Linked DNA regions of Homo sapiens: region 1 is linked to region 2. The links come from fine-mapping of genetic effects on gene expression. A gene starts in region 2. The other region holds a variant in brackets. All regions are shown on one strand. Distances are from middle to middle. Region 1 overlaps DNAI3 (dynein axonemal intermediate chain 3). Region 2 holds the start of BCL10 (BCL10 immune signaling adaptor).

The links. PIP is the estimated chance that this variant, and not a neighbour inherited with it, causes the effect.
Region 1: its variant is fine-mapped to the expression of BCL10 in testis (GTEx, PIP above 0.99).

What each region holds. Positions count from the first base shown.
Region 1 is chr1:85,088,449-85,096,448 of GRCh38, forward strand. It overlaps DNAI3 (dynein axonemal intermediate chain 3), which reads left to right. Exons shown (of 23, transcript NM_145172.5): 8 at 1,668-1,784; 9 at 5,010-5,200; 10 at 5,983-6,107; 11 at 7,483-7,572. Among named protein-coding and RNA genes, the nearest start is that of DNAI3, 30 kb to the left of the region's middle. The variant T/G (reference allele first, on the strand shown) is at 3,690.
Region 2 is chr1:85,271,510-85,280,044 of GRCh38, forward strand. It overlaps BCL10 (BCL10 immune signaling adaptor), which reads right to left and starts at 5,123. Exons shown (of 3, transcript NM_003921.5): 1 at 4,787-5,123. The coding sequence starts at 4,843. It overlaps BCL10-AS1 (BCL10 antisense RNA 1), which reads left to right and starts at 4,849. Exons shown (of 2, transcript NR_045484.1): 1 at 4,849-5,288; 2 at 6,132-6,579. RefSeq lists enhancers at 4,316-5,515, 4,721-5,423, 7,832-7,941, 8,132-8,191.

The DNA of each region.
Region 1 (8,000 bases), 180 kb before region 2:
TAGCTGGTATGAGGTAGAGAAAGTAGGATATGTGATTATATTGGAGGGAGTCAAGAAAAATCAAAGATGAAGTTCAAAGAATAATGACAGTGAAAGCAAATGCCTAGTGTTCCCACCACATACCAGGCATTCTTCTAAGTGCTTTACACACATCAATTCAATCCTCACAAGTGCTCTCTGAGGTAGGCACTATCCCCATTTTACAAATAGAGAAACTGAAGCAAAGAGAGGTTAAAAATGAAAGCCCAATGTTTCGGGCATAATTTAAACTTGAAGCAATAATGAATGGTTTTGCTGAAAAACAACAAAACAAATCATATTTCGAAAGTAAGAGTGACTCTTAGGCATGTTGCTACTTTGATAAAACCACCAAGCAATATATCATTTTGTTTTTTTTTTACTTAACCCTGTCTAGAGAGCAGAAATTAAAAGGTGAAGCTGAGAATTGAACCCAAGTCTCTCTGGTTCCAATACTAATATTATTTCTTTCTACCACTCTGCCTTCTGCTATGGATACTGACCTAAACAAGGAAAAAAAATGAATTATTCTAAAAACTCCCTTTACCCCTTTGTCTGATTACTCTCCATTTAATATATTACCTCTCACAGAGACATTCTGCATTGTGCTGACATTTGTTCAACAAACACAAATACTACATAATATTTTGTTGATCATTTAAAATGTGCTAGGCACTGTTTTTAAAGTTTTGCATGTATCAACACATTCAATCCTTACAATGACACTATGAACTAGCTACTTGAATAATTTCATTTAGAGATGAGAACACAGGCACAGAAGGTTAGATAATTGGCTCAGGGGTCATATAGCTAGTAAATGATAGAACCAGGCTTCAAAGCCAGGCAGCCAATCACCAGAATCCACACTCTTAATGATTGTGCCCTGTGACTTTTCCAAGCTCTACATGCCAAGATCAAGGGCTCACCCAGTCTAATACTTGAGATTGATAAAGCCCAGAGGTACAATGCCATATGAGGTGTTCACATACAGAGGCCACTAAGAGCATACTAGATGGAGCAAGACTTCCTGCCACCATCACTGCTGAAATGTATCTTATTCCTAGTTTTGTATGTTTAGAGCAGAGTTTCTCAACTTCAACAAATTGACATTTGGGGCTGGATAATTCTCTTTGAGGGAAGGCTGTCTTGTGCTTTGTAGGGTTTTTAACAGCATCCCTGGGATCTATTCACTAGACACCAGTAGCATGTCTAGGTTGTGACAACCAAAAATGTTTCTAGACATTGCCAAATGTCCCATGAGGGGGTGAGGTGGACACTGACTTAGTGAAATGAAGAGAGAGAGAAAACAATAAAGATGGCAAAATGTTAATAATTGACGAATCTGGGTGAAGGGTGTGTGGGAATTCCTTATACCCTTCTTATAACTTTTCTATAAGTTTGAAATGATTTCTAGGTAAAAATTTTACAAAAATAAGATTTTTTTGATTATGTTGGAGAGAAATTCATGTAGCCTTTGAATAGTGGTCAATATCAGTTGTCTAGGATAAAGAAAATTCAATGTATATAATTTAAATATAAAATAATATCCTAACATCATTGTCACAGAGACACACTTTTGACCTGTTGTGGCCCATATTTGCTCTTCTTTGACCTAATCTTTAGTATTGAATTTTCTTTTAATATATTAGGACATATCCTAAAAATGCTACTACGCAATATTATCCAAGAGAATTCTCAGAAGAGGAAAAAGAGACACTCAAACAATCAAAGCCTTTGGTTGATTTTCTTAACAATGCATCCATAAGGTAAAAAATTGCATATTAAATTTTAAAAATAAAACATAAAATGTATATGTTTACATAGAATAACAGGTCTAAATAAACAATTCCATATAGGGTATCTAGATAAAAAGTATGAAGACAGTTGTCAGTGTGACACATTCTACAGATTCTCAATATTTATTTCCTTTCTATTGCTAAGCAACATCTTAGCCCTATCAAGCTAAGGCCACATCAAACTGTGTGAGGAGTTGAGTGTGTGAGGATGTTTTCCTAATTGCAGATTAACATTTACTTGTATTTACCATGGTTACTTTTACGTAATTCTTTTTCTCCACTCCTCACTCCTCTTCCTCATTAACTTTTTATAGGATGAGGAGAATGCTGTGGCCATTATTATGATGATAAGTATTTGCAAAAATATCTTTGTAGATGAGAACCTGAATTTAATTCAAATGTCTTTTTGGACATTTCACTCTTATCACCAATTCCTGTGTTCCTGCACTCTTACTGGCTTTGAAAGAGAAGCATCTTCAAAATGCCCCCTAAGCTGTTAGTAGGACCCTGGGTAGAGTTCTGGGGCTTCTAAACCAGAGAAACAGCTTGACAAGTTCTCACCAAGCTGATACTAGAGTTTAGAGAAGTGGATCCACTGGAGGACAAGTCTGCCAGTTATACTCAATAGGCTGGTTTCTATTTCTTTCTAAAATTAAAAACTTGGTGGTCAAGTTCATATATAGCCCAAGTTAAACTTTTTTATTTTTAAGAAATGTCGTTGGTTCTTTCATACTGGATTAAATATCCTAAAAATTCCAACAACTCTCAAACTTGTTACTTATGCCTAGGGAGACTCTGGCTCAAAAATTCAGTTAATGATTCAGAGAGAACATTATTTGCCACTCGCAGGAAGGATGCTATAATTTTTGCTATACGGGCAATGAGATAGAAACAAGAAAACCTGAGTTTCACCCTCCCCTTATCAAAATTTAGTAGTCATTACAATTTTTCCTGTAAGAATATTCAAAATGAGAAGTTTGTTTACATATAATCAATATCCAGAGAAAACTAGATCTTGAGGGAATAAAAAAATGTTCAAAATAAATCCACATTGTATATTATCTTTAGACCTGGGCTTTTATTCTTCCCTCTGAATTTCCATGCTTATAAAGAAAAGAATAGTGGACAGCTTTATGATTCCATCCCTGAGATGTGGGAAGGAGAAGCCAGATCTATAAGAAGAAAGAGGAAAATTGGCACAGGAATTATAATAGCACTGGCCCAGAGTGGATAAGAAACCCATGTTTATATCACTGCAAACATAACTTCCAGCTTTAAAACTGCTTAAGCTTTATTCAATAGTTTTTAATTAAGGTAAGCCTGATTTTGTTCTGGAAGAAAGCCCTTTTAGAAATGGGAAATTTCTTTCTCATAGAATTTTATCTAAAACAAACTTAAGGGAAGCATTATTTGCAAAAGAAGGCAATGACATGAGATGAGAGAGAGGAACTTCAGGGGGATTCACAAAACAACTAAGAAACCTTCCTTTCGGGGTTAAAATTCCTAGACAACAGTTTTGCTAGCCTCCAATTTGTTACTCTCGGGAGCTACATGGTTCCAGGAAAGCAAGAAACCGGAAACCAGAAGAAAGATGTGTTTTCACTTCTTCCGTTTGAATTACTTCCCCGTTCTGGCTAAGGAGGTAGAATCAGGAAACCAGAGCGGAAGCCACGTCTTTAACTTTTCTCTTGAGAATTCCCTTCTCATTTGGGCTTAACCAGAAAGAAATATGATTTGGAAAATGCTTACTAATGCTTCTACTGGAAACTGTTTAAGCCTCGAGAGTCCGCTACACAGGGTTATTCAATGTTCAGTGTGCTTATGAATCACCTGAGGACTCTTGTTAAAATGCAGGTTCTGACTCAGTAAGTCGGG[T/G]GGAGCCTGCGACTCTGCATTTCTAACAGCCCCAGGTCATGTTGGTGGTCACTGGATCACACTTTAAGTGGCCAGGTCTTAGGAAAGGGGTCTATTTTGAAAGATGAAATACAAGAAGAATTTAACCAAGGGAGGACTCAATTAGGCAATGACTGGTAGTGTAATGATCAATGACAGGGGTATCAAACGGTGCCCTTTTTTATATTTTAGGAGTATCTGTTTTTACTGTTTATATTGAACTATCTAAAGGATTTTTTCTTATTTTAAGAAATTCACAATTGAGAACCACTTTTTCAACTTACCACACCTATATAAAACCAAGAAGTTTACAGTTTTGATCAGTAGGGTAAAACCTTGGGTGGCATTCTAATTGTGGGAGGGCTCTTAGCAACTTTGGGAGTATGCAGAGCTTTCAGATCTAAGCATAAAAAGGGACAATAACTATCATAGTAACTACTTTAAGACAGGAGCCTGTCAAACCAAGGTCCCTAGACTATTAGCAAATGATCCTAGCACTCAGATGGTATCTTAAAGGAGCAATGTTAGTATTTTTAGCAGGATAATTTTTCATTTTGGGGACTGTCTCATGCATTGCAGGAGGTTTGGTAATGGAATTAAACACAGTAGCACCTCCCAGGCATTGTGACAACTAAAACTACACACACACACACACACACACACACACACACACACACACACTTCTAAACTCCAATTCTTCCCTTGTTCAGAATCTCTTATTTGTTGTTTTGAATTACATATGTATTGGGGCTATCCTGTTAAGGATAAGTGATCATTTAGTACAGAATATGCCTAAGAAAACTGCCATTTGTGACAGTTGGGGCTTTCCAGGAAGCAAATGACATCAAGTTAGAGGCAGACGTTTACTGAGGATTACACTGTGAAAAATAAAGGAGGAGGAGACAGGACCGGGAAGGTAGAGCATCAGACAAATTCTCAGCCTACTCAGCAGGAGCTCCAGAGCAAAGATGCCTGCTGTGGGAGTGCTGCACAAGGAGGACTGGCCAGGCCCAGCCATCCCTGCAGCTGCATGCTCAGGCATTGGCCTGGAGAGAGTACAGCCTTGGCTTGGAAACTGAGGCAGATCATGAAGTTGCTCGAGGTTCTGAGTAACATGCCACCATGATGTTTTTTTCTCTTAAGTCATTTATTTCACATGAGGTTAATCATTATCACCAAATATAATTGAGAATTATTATTTTTTGTTCAGTATAAATGAAGGAGGAGGAGTTGCTAAGATAGTCACATTATTGGATACTAAAAACCAATATCTTAATTGCTTTTTTTATTTTTACAAATTAGTGTTGAAATAGCCCTGCAGCAAAATGAAATCATGAACACATTTATTGATGACTGGAAATACCTCGCAGAAGAAGAAGGCACCTTTGGGGACAAGACCGATACCCACCTGAAAGAGTACCAGTCCTTTACCGACCTTCATAGCCCAACGGAGAAAATGATTACCTGTGTCTCATGGCATCCAACTATCTATGGTGAGATGGAAATGATGGGGATTCCCTTTTGTGATAACATTGAAATTGTCTGTTGCTTTCATATGTAAAATTGCAAACTAGTTCAATGTCAATAAGACACCTTCCATTTGCTCTGTACTCACTAGGTACCTGCCATGTGCTTTCCACGCCCTCACTGTCATGTGTCCTCCCAACAACCCTGTAGGATACACACCTGTCATTATCTCTGTTTCACAACAAAAGGACCCAAGCTCAACTCAGGGAAGTGACTCGCCCAGGTCACCCAGATGGCATAAGGCAGAGTCTGGGTTGGGCTTGGGCCTGTTGCTCTCCCAAGGCTAAATTTCTTCCTCCTAACACTGCCTTTCTGATTACTAGACAAGAGAGGAAATGTGCCTCCTTTAAAGAGCTCAGCAGCCAAGGGAGGTAGGTAGGGATGTGCAAAGATGGAAACATGGAAAGAGAGAGGTATTTGTCCTCTTTCTTCCTCCTTTCACCCTACACTGGCCCTTTTCTCACAAAAAAGAAACAAAACAAGATTTTCTTTTCTTCCAAAATCTTCTGAGTCCCCTGTATATTTTATACTAACAGTACATGTCAGTTTGGACCAGCCAGATTTCAAGTGCTAAATAAGTAGCATGTAACTAGTGGCAACCACATTAGCCAGCAGAGCTCTAAGAAAACTCTTGCTCTCCTGTGGACAAAGTGTAAATGAAGAGTGGCTGTGTAGAAAAGCAAAAGCTAGAGACATCTCTCCATGTATAGTTGCTGCCAACTTTAATTTCTACATGTGTTTCCATCAGGGCTAATAGCTGTGTCGGTAGCCGTGCGACTTTCTTTTGAAGACAGAGTTCACTTTTCTGGTAAATTATTGCTGCAGCCATCACTGATTCTTTTCTGGAGCTTCTCTGATCCTATACATCCTCAGGTAATTAGGGAGAGTTGCCTACATAGCCTAAATTTTCAAATACTACTTTCATGTATACCTTTAGCAGTTTTTATTGCAAAGTACTTTATAATCATGTAATGTTGTAAACATTTATAAAGTTAGGCTTTCTTCAATGCAGAACTTGTCATCATTCAATTTGAGCAAAACTAAAGTTTACAATTTGTTTATTGAACAAATCAACATGCTATTTTTTTCAAAGATTGTAAGAGGAATGTTTAAACTATTTTTAAAACAAACTCTTTTATGGACTTTACTTGAATACTAATTGGTCAAATGCAAATAGATTTTAGTTTCACATGAGTTTCCTCAATTCCAAGGATCACTGGGTAATAAATAAAGGTGAATGTGTGGGAGAGCACTGGGGAGTGGTAGGGACTGCGGCCTTGGAGAGTGCATTATCCATCTCTAGGCTGGCTGCCCTCTTGTTGCCAGGTGGTCCCATTGTCAAGAGAATTGAGAAATTTGGAATTTTGTATGAAATCGCCCAATTTTAAATAGCTCAACTAAAACCAAGCCAAAACACACAAAAACCCCACTCAAACCAACCAAAACACATAGCAATTCAAATAAAATGAGGCTGAAGGCTGGGTTTGCTACACAGGGTTCTAGTTTTCATGGTCTGCTCAATAAGAGATCTGCCTAGTGGGTGGGTGGTGTATAGTGTTAGATTAAGTTATTTCAATGTTTTAAATATAATAATATTTTGTTTCTAAAAAGTATTCATAATTAAGACTTTCCCTAAAAAACCCTAGCCTCCCCTTCTTCCTTTCCCCAATTCATTTGAATTAAGGTAGTTTTACTGTAATAGATTCTAGATACTTTAATGATTATAGACCCAGAGATCAAATTGAAAGATCTCTAGCCCTTTCTTGTCAGCCACAAAAACAGAGCCACTCTCTCACTAGAGTTTTCTAACCTTTCTACCCTGTAGATCTCCTCTCCACTCCAGGAGTGCCTGGCTCAGTATTCAGCAAGCAACAAAACAGACACAGATCCTGTCCTCACAGAGCTTCCCTTCCATGGTTTTCAGGAACACTAATTTCATAGTCTTTTTGTTATAAACATTGTAACATGCTCCCAAAATAACTACAATTTGTTTCCACTGAGGGGTGGGTTGGGGAATACCTGGGTCCCCTTGAGAACATACTCACTGTCACTCGTATGGCCAATGTGCACAATAAAATTAAGCAAAAGCAGCTTTTAGTCCAGAGGCAGAACTCTGAGAATAGACTCTCTACGCACCTTGCTTATAGATAGCTATAAAATTAGACTTTTAACTGTCTTAATATTATTTTCTCGCCATGATCTTAATCTCTTTTCTCATTCTTTCATGAATTTGCTGGGTTTACTTTAGTTAATGCTGGAGAGCCCAGATGACATCTTCTGCTTCAAGTTCTGTCCGAGTGATCCTAATATCATTGCTGGAGGCTGTATCAATGGGCAGGTACTTAACAGAATTTTTTTCAGCTATGTATTAATGTAGACAACCTTTGGTAATAAGTTTTGACTTGGCAGTTCCTTGGACTTAAGGATTCAATTCAGCAGAAGGAAGGCATGCCAATTGTGTGCCAGACACCACACCAGGAAGCAGGGTATAGAGACGTGTTACACACGGTATCAGCTCCTGAGGTGTTCACGGGGTAACCCAGCTTCAAAACTGAAACAGAATTGGGTGAAATCTATTTGTGTTGCTGGGACTGAACCACATATTGTATAAGATTCCATGGAAGAACAAAAGCTACAAGCATTACTACCTCTTGGAAAAAAAGGCCTCTTCTGAAATTTCCTTGGGAGTAGGAGTTAGGGGATGATCCAGAACTTAAACAGAAATTCACTAGAAAGCATACACACATCACTGAATTTATAGGCAGA
Region 2 (8,535 bases):
AATGAAAGAAATAAAGAAAAAGGACACCACAAAAAAGCAAACCTAGATTTGAGAAGTGCCTAAGAGCTTAATTAGTAGAAAATCCATGTTGATCTCAATAAATGGCATTAATAATTTGGTACCGGTGACTGTATTTTAGCTCCTCTATTTACTAGATATATGATCTTGGGCAAGTAATTAACTCCTCTGTGCTTGTTTCCTCAGCTGACTGTTATATGAGGAATAAAGATATGCAAAGTGCTTAGAAAAGCGCTTGGTACATAGTAAGTGATCAATATATGTTAGTAATAATGACAAAGGTAATGGCAGGAAAGTAGGCTAGGTGAAGGGTTCCTGTGGTTCTTGGTCTACGAAGTTCCACATTTACTTGTTTATTCACATGACAAGTATTTTACAAATCTAAATTCCTAATATGCCGAGTGCTGAGCACTGAGTATACAAAGATGAACAAGATTTGAATCCTACATGCAAAGGGCTCATGGTCTAGCTGGGAATACATATCACAGGTAATAATTATAAAACAATGTGATCGGGCCCAGAAAAAAAAGATTATAGGTCAAATACAGGAAAAGCACAGAGTGAGCAAATAACTATGTCCAGGACCTGGTCCTTATCATATCTGGCATGGACTATTAACAATAGAAACCTAGCTGCACTTACTACTTCCTTCCCCCTCCTCAACATTTCTCCTTCAGGAGAAAATGGAAATCTGGAGTATTATATGAATTTTACTAAATTTTTTTTAAGGATCTCACTCTGTCACCTAGGCTGGAGTGCAGTGGCTTGATCATAGCTCACTGCAGCCTGGAATCCCTAGACTCAAGTGATCCCCATCTTAGCCTCTTGAGTAGCTAGGACTACAGGTGTGAGCCACCATGCCCGGCTAATTTTTAATTTTTTTTTTTTTTTTTTGTAGAGAAGGGATCTTTGCTACATTACCTAGGCTGGTCTTGAACTCCTGGCCTTAAGTGATCCTCCCACCTTATCCTCCTGAGTTGTTGGGATTATAGGTGTGGGCCACTGTGCCCAGCAAATTCTAATATTGAAATTTTGTTAATTTAGAAAAAAAATTAAAAACAATGTTCTGCCCTGTCTTAAAGGATAAAGTTCCTTTACGTGGCAGAAGAGTAGAAAAGTTAAGGGCATGGCTCTAAAGTTGGATCAACCTCAGTGCAAATCTTGAATCTAGTACTCACCCTTGTGAGAGCTGGGCCAAGTTACTTCACCACTCCAAGCTCCAGGTATGTTATTGATAAAATAAGGATTAAAAACTTAACTCACAGGACATCAAGGAGGACTAAATGGGAATACTATATATGAAGGCCACGCATAGTCTCTGTACACAGTAAGTACTCAATAATAACTAATTATGGAAGACAAGGTTCATTGATAATATGGCTCCTACCTACCTCTCCAGCTTAATCTATCACTACCTTTGTCCTGAAAATTTATGCTCTACCTAAAACTATCTGTCTCTCTACATTTCCTTACGTATTTTTTGTCTGCTTTTATCAGACCCTAAAGCCCCTATTCGTCCTTTAAGATTTAGGTCAGTGGTCATCTTCTTTGGAAAGGTTTACCTAACTCCCCAGAATGAGTTAGGCACCCCGTCCTCTGTCCTTGTAGCACCTTGTGTATACACTTCATCTTTCTATACACCAGGACTCCACTTCTTTCACCTCATTTCCCAATTCATTCCCAGACATTTCCATCCTGCCCCAGTATTCTTCTCGAAGTCACCAATGACCCCCTTATTGCCAAATATTTTCAGTCTTCATTTCATTTTTCAGCTGCATAAACACAGTTGACTACTCCCTCCCTGAAACAAGAAAATTGTTACATGAATACCACACTCTCCTGGTTTTCTTCCCATCCCTGTGGATACAACTTTTCAATCATTTTCTTGTTGTTGTTGTTACCCTACTTTCAAGCTAACAATTCACTTTTTAAAATTCTTCTCTTTAAAGGGTTTTACACCATTTTTCTCTTCTAGCTCACAGCTTTCTAGGTAAAATCATTCAATTCCACACTTACATTTCTAGCTCAGATCTCTCTTCTGATCTTTGACTTTGCAGATGTAATTGCTGATCTGACATTTCCATGTACTAATCTAATTACATCCTCTTCCTCAACTCCCATGTTCAATCCATCACCAGGTCATATCATTTCTATTTCAAAAACTGCATCTGGAATTCTGCTCCATTCATCTCCACTGCCTTCACCCTGATCCAAATCACCATCCTCATTCATCTCTATAGATTCCAAGAGCCTGCTCACTGGCTTCCCTGTTCTTATTCTTGTTCTCCTCAGTCCATGAAACAGGCAGAGGGATCTTTAAACTATACAATTCTTCAACAAGTCCCTACTATACTTGGGGGGAAAAAAACCCCAGATACTTTACTAAAAGGCTCTTCATGAAAATGGCTCTAGCCCACCTTCCTAACTTCACTTCAGATTACCCTCTGCCTTCCTCCGATTTCCCCAAGTCACCAGGGTCTTGCCTATTTTAGGTCCTTGACAAATTCTATTCTGCCCAGAATGCTCTTCCCTCAGTTCTGTCAAATCTTTCAGGAATCAGTTTAAATATAACCTCTCCTGACCATCCTATCTCAAGTCGATTTCCCCTATTATTGTCTTGGCACTGTTTGATTCCTTCATAGTAATTGCAATAATGAAAACAAAATTTATTTATTTGTTTTAAACTAACGTCTCTGTTTGAAGCAGGCAGCTACGAGGTATGTTTTAGCCAACACTGTATATCCTGCACTTACTAGGGCACCAAGTAGTTAATGTTTCAGTTGAATGCAAAACTCACTGCACTTATTTTGTGATTTAAAACAATCCCCCTCAAGAAATTGAGCTCTTTTCAAGTTAGGATTGTGTTTTCATTTTTAATTTTTGAACTGTTAGAACCAACCACAGTATCAGCCTCACAGTAGCATGTAATCCATATTTATTAAACTGTACTAAATCCAACTAACACAATGAGGCAAATAACTAGATAGGAGGAGGGGGAGACACTAAAGAAGTGGGAGGTCCCAAGACAAAGGGTGGTAGCACACCATTCATCAAGAAAGGCAATACAGCAGCAACAGTAAGCAACTTTGGGAAAAGGATAGTAAAAGTTCAATATTTGACAAGGTGAGCAATCTGTAGGATATAAAAGTAGATTTCCAGTAGACATTTGGAAATAAGGACCTAGAGTGGAGAGAAAAGTCCAAATATGTGGATAATTTTAAAACTCTCTAAGATCAGAAGACATTTTGAAAATATCATGAAAAAAACCTCTAAGAAAAAAGCATGCACATAGTTTCTTTCATAGACCTTTTGAAACCCATCCATGGTTTCCTCAAGGTTATTTATTTCTGATATAGGCGTAAAATGAAATCCTGAAGACAGATAACATCAATGAATTGACAGAGAAGAACAAAGACCTGGAAGCCACTCTTCACATCTGTACTTGTATACAGATCTTATTTCCTTCCACTTGTAATTTCTCAGTTCCTGTTTTATTAGCTGTAAAATGGGAATGGCAATTATCTTCTTTAGAGGTTGTTGCGAAGGTTAAGTGGGAACATTGTAAACTGTGTGACACAGCATCTGGAACATAGGAGGCCTAGCTCTTGGAAGTTCAAGGTTTTACTGGCACTCACCATGAATAAGACAACATTTATTCTACAGTAGTTATTTATGTTCCATTCTTATCTCAACTAGAATGTAAAGCAGGAAACTGATCTTCATTTTTTTGTATCCTTCCAGACCCAAGGCCAGTGCTTTCCATATAGCAAGTGCTCCATAAATCTCTGTTGAATGAGGAAACTAAGCACAACTCCCAGTCATATCCAGTTTCCTTCTGCTGGTGAGTCACACCAATTGTGAGTACAGTGTAATAAACCTTACAGGGAAGAGGAAGGGATTTGAAGTGGATGAACATTTAAAAAGTTGCCATCCTGTCCAGTTCATCAAAATGACTTTGTAAAAGTACTGCAGTGTTCAATAAGAACACGTTTCATGTTGAGTTTCTGTTTTTCATTTGACTTCAGATAAAGTATTTTAGTGATACTCATATAGGTCTCATCTGACAAAACAAGTAAACGCAAAGGAAAAAGAATGTCATATCTCAACAAAGCCATTCGTTACGAATAAATATGAAGGTTTATGTGGTTCTGCACCATCCGAGAAGAGCATAATTTAGCTACTGAATATTTTCGACGTTTACCTGTACATTAATTCTCAGCTACGTGTATTCACTCCCCCAACCCCAATTTAAATATGTGGGCGTCTGCTTACTAGGGGAATTCCAGGTTGTGCTTTCAGCTGTTGAGCTTCCTCAAGCCCCCTTATGCAAAAGAGCTTCACATTTTTGGTCCACTGCTTGGGATCCTTCACCTGGTACAGCCTTCGCTCTAGGCTGAGTGAGCAGCCTAGGCAGCCTGACTTAAGGATGAATCTGAGCCGCCAGTCCCTAACGAAGCATCTCCAAGAACCCAGTTGGGGGGAAAGCATGAGGAGATGGGTGAGGAGTGGGCAAGAATCAAAACACCACTTGGCAACAAAGCCCAAGCTCTGCGTTTAGCGATGTAAAACCTGGATTGACAGATCACTGGAGGATCACTGCCACCAAGGTCCCTCGGATGCAGGGCTCGCCACAGTCCTCCTGTGCTAGGACTTTCCGCTCCTCCGACCTGGAGGATCCTCCTTGTCCTCGGACTCCAGGCTTCCGCTTTCGTCTCCCGCTGGGCTGCAGCCCGCCCCCGCCCGCCCTGGGCACAGCTGCGTTACTCACGTCCTTCTTCACTTCAGTGAGGTCCTCCTCGGTGAGGGACGGTGCGGTGGGCTCCATGGTGGAGGCGGGAGATGGCGCTTCTTCCGGGTCCGGGAGCTCGGGCTGCGCCGCCCCGCCCTGGCTGGGGGCTTCGGCCTCCGGGTAATGGGGAAGAAGGAGAGGAGGCGGAGCGGGTCGGGAGAAAGACGGCCGCCCCTTCGGGAACAGAGGGACTCGGGGGTCAAACCGTAGCGCTTCCGGCCCCGCCTCTGAGGTCGACGGCGACGCGAATCTACGCGACGCGACGCGGAGCTCGGAGCAGCGTTCCTTCCCTCTCGTAGAGGCTCAGGCGCAGGCACCGCCCCACGGCGAGGCGCGTCGCTTAGCAGAGCCCGCCCTGTCTCTGCGGCAGCCTATCGACGCCAGCCCGCGGGCCGATCCTGTTCCCGCCCCCGACCGGAGCCTTTCGGGTGGCTCCGCCCACAGCGGGCGTTTCCTCAAGCCACGCCTGCGCAGGTCGTCGGTAAGTGGCCCGGGTTAGCTTCCTCATAAGGCATCGTTTCCGTGGGTGGGGTCCGTCAGTGCCCAGGCAGCTGGCACTCTCAGCCTTTGCTGCCTGCTCACTTCGGGGGAGTCCGGTCTGGGCTTGTCAGTACCTTGGGTTCCTCCCCTTTTCCCAGACCCTGCCCTACAATTTCCTGTTGTTACGTTTGCCAGTTACTGTTTTGGTCACACACAAACGCACTCATACACACATACACATGCATACACACAAACAGCCTAACTACAATACTAAACAAATTTTTGAAAGAAAAAAAGAAACCACCTACAATCCCACCACTTTAACACCTCATTTAACGTTTGCATACTTTTTGGTCACTGTTCATTATAAACATAGCTTTTCCTCATTAGTTAATCTGTGTAATGGAGATAGATATGCTTACCTTTTAGGGCTGCCGGGATCATATGTAAAGTTCTTAAAGGTAGTTGGGCACACAGTATGCACTCAACTGATTATTTATTTATTTATTGAGACAGGATCTCACTCTGTCGCCCAGGCTGGAGTGCAGTGGTGCGATTCTCGGCTCACTGCAGCTTCCACCTCCAGGGCTCAGGCGATCCTTCCACCTCAGCCACCAAGCAGCTGGGAGTCCAGCTAGTTTTTTTGTATTTTTTATAGAGATGGAGTTTCGCCATGTTGCCCAGGCTGGTCTCAAACTCCTGGGCTCAAGCCATCCACCCGCCTCGGCTTCCCAAAGTGCAGGGACTACAGGCATGAGCCACCCAGCTCATCCTACTCAAACATTTATTGAGTCCTTACTAATATGTTCTAGGCAACTTATACTATGAGTCCTCCATTTTATAGGGGGAGACTGATGAAGAGACGACTATCCCCAGACCGTATTTTAACTACTATGGCGCTGTGTAAGAAGCAACCTGAGAAGTGTGGATGAAAAGCTACAGGTAGAGCCCTGGGCCCAAGACGGTGGCTTGGACAACATGCTAAATAAACTATAAACTAGATGGTATTTGAAGCTACGAGAGTAGATAAAAATGACAGGAGGACCAAGGAGAAACTTGGGAACGCCAATGTTTAAGAAACGGGAAAGCAAAAAAAAAAAAAAACACACACAAAAAAACAATGTAACCAGAGCCACAAAAACCAGAATCACAGCAAGGGATTCTGATGTTTACATTATGTCCTGTTTCCATGTTGACACATTACACAAGGACAGTTTTTTTCTAATTGCTTAATTTTTCATCATCTTCCATCCGATTTACTGAACCATCCTTAACTTTAGGATGAATCCTTTCATTTAACAAATGTGTTTTGAATGTCCACTATGTGCCAGACACTGTTCTAGGTGCTAGGAAAACAGCTGTGAACAAAACCAATAAAAATCTCTTTCCTCATGGAATTTATATTCTAGTTTATTTGTGTTTGGGGCAGACGAGGTAGGCACTTGAAAAATTTTATCTAAGTTTATTTATTTATTTATTTGGAGACAGAATCTCGCTCTGTCACGCAGGCTGGAGTGCAGTGGCACGATCTCTGCTCACTGCAACCTCCTCCTCCCAGGTTCAAGTGATTCTCCTGCCTCAGCCTCCCCAGTAGCTGGGATTACAGGCGCATGCCACCACACCCGGCTATATCTAAGTTATTTTAAAAAAATAATTAATTAATTTATTTTTTTGAGACGGAGTCTCACTCTGTTTCCCAGGCTGGAGTGCAATGGCACCATCTCAGCTTACTGCAACTTCTGCCTCCCGGGTTCGAGCGATTCTCCTGCTTCAGCCTCCTGAGTAGCTGGGACTACAGGCACACACCACCACGCCCAGCTAATTTTTGTACTTTTAGTAGAGACAAGGTTTCACCACATTGGCCAGGTTGGTTTCGAACTCCTGACCTCAGGTGATCTGCCCACCTCAACCTCCCAAAGTGCTGGGATTACAGGCATGATCCCCCACGCCTGGCTATATCTAAGTTATTTAATTTATTAGAAGATGATAAATACTAAGAGGAAAAAATAAAACAGGGAAGTAGGATGAGGCTGTATGGATTGGTAAAATTTAAGCTAGGGTGGTCATGACCTCCCTGCTCACTTTGGAGGAGTCTGTCCTTGTCTTGTCAATACCAAGATAAGGGATTTGATTTATGCTTAAAGGAAGTGAGGGAGTGAACCGTGTGGATATAAGGAGAGAGCATTATGAGTACAGTCAGCAACCAATAAAAATGCTCAGTGTAACTGGAAGGAGATGATCTCCTTGTGTGTTGAGTCATATGGGTGTGCTGAGTCAGACGGGAAGCCACTGGAAGGTTCTGAGCAGAGTGACATGATCTGATTTGTGATTTGAAAAGAAGCACTTTCACTTCTGTGCTAAGGGGAAAGAAGATGGAAGAGGGAAAACCATTTAGGGAGGTATTGCTATATCCAGGCCCCAGGAGGTTGTGGTTCAGACCAGGGTGGAGCAGTGAGGGTGGTGGGAGCATTTTGAAATGAAGCAAGGAAGCAGTTTGATTTCATTTTGAAAGGATCACTCTGGCTGCTAAGTGGAGAGTAGATGGCAGGGGCAAGGGCAAGAAGCAGAGACTACGTGGAGGCTACCACAATGTCAGGTTCACGACTGAGCCAAATGTCATGCTTGGGGTCAGGTTCTAGCCCATGCTGAGGTCCAAGGGGAGTGGGTGGATGAGCAGAAAGAACACTCAGGGGACCGTAGGCAGGTAAAAGATGATTTTACTCAGCAGCAGCTCTCATCAACAGCTTTCTTACACTAGCTCTCTACACTGTCTGCCCTGTCTCAGGTGCTTAGTCTGGCGGCTCCCCCACACAGCTGCATGGCCGACTCTCCCTTGCCTTCGGGGTCAGCAGCTTAACTCTTCCTCTCTCTGGGCATGAGCAAGCCGAGCTGTGTCCTGGCTCCCCACTGTCAGTCTCCAAGAGGGTCAACTCTGGCTCTCTCTCTCTCTCTCTGGGTGTCAGCACGCCTGCACGATGTCAACAGGGCAATTATACCTTTTACAGACAATAGTGGCTTAGAGCCAAGGGATGGCCTTCCCATGTTATGGCTACATAGCTGTGATAACAAGTGGAGTTATATGCCTGCGCTCTAAACTCGCTGAGTCCCTGTGGATGTTTACCTCGTCCTATCCTTGACCAAAGCACAGCCATGTTCCTTACACACAGCCATCCAGGCACAGCTTAGGATGGCTTGACCAGGGTGGGGGCAGTGGTGAGCACTCCCCACTGACACCTTAAATCCTTCCC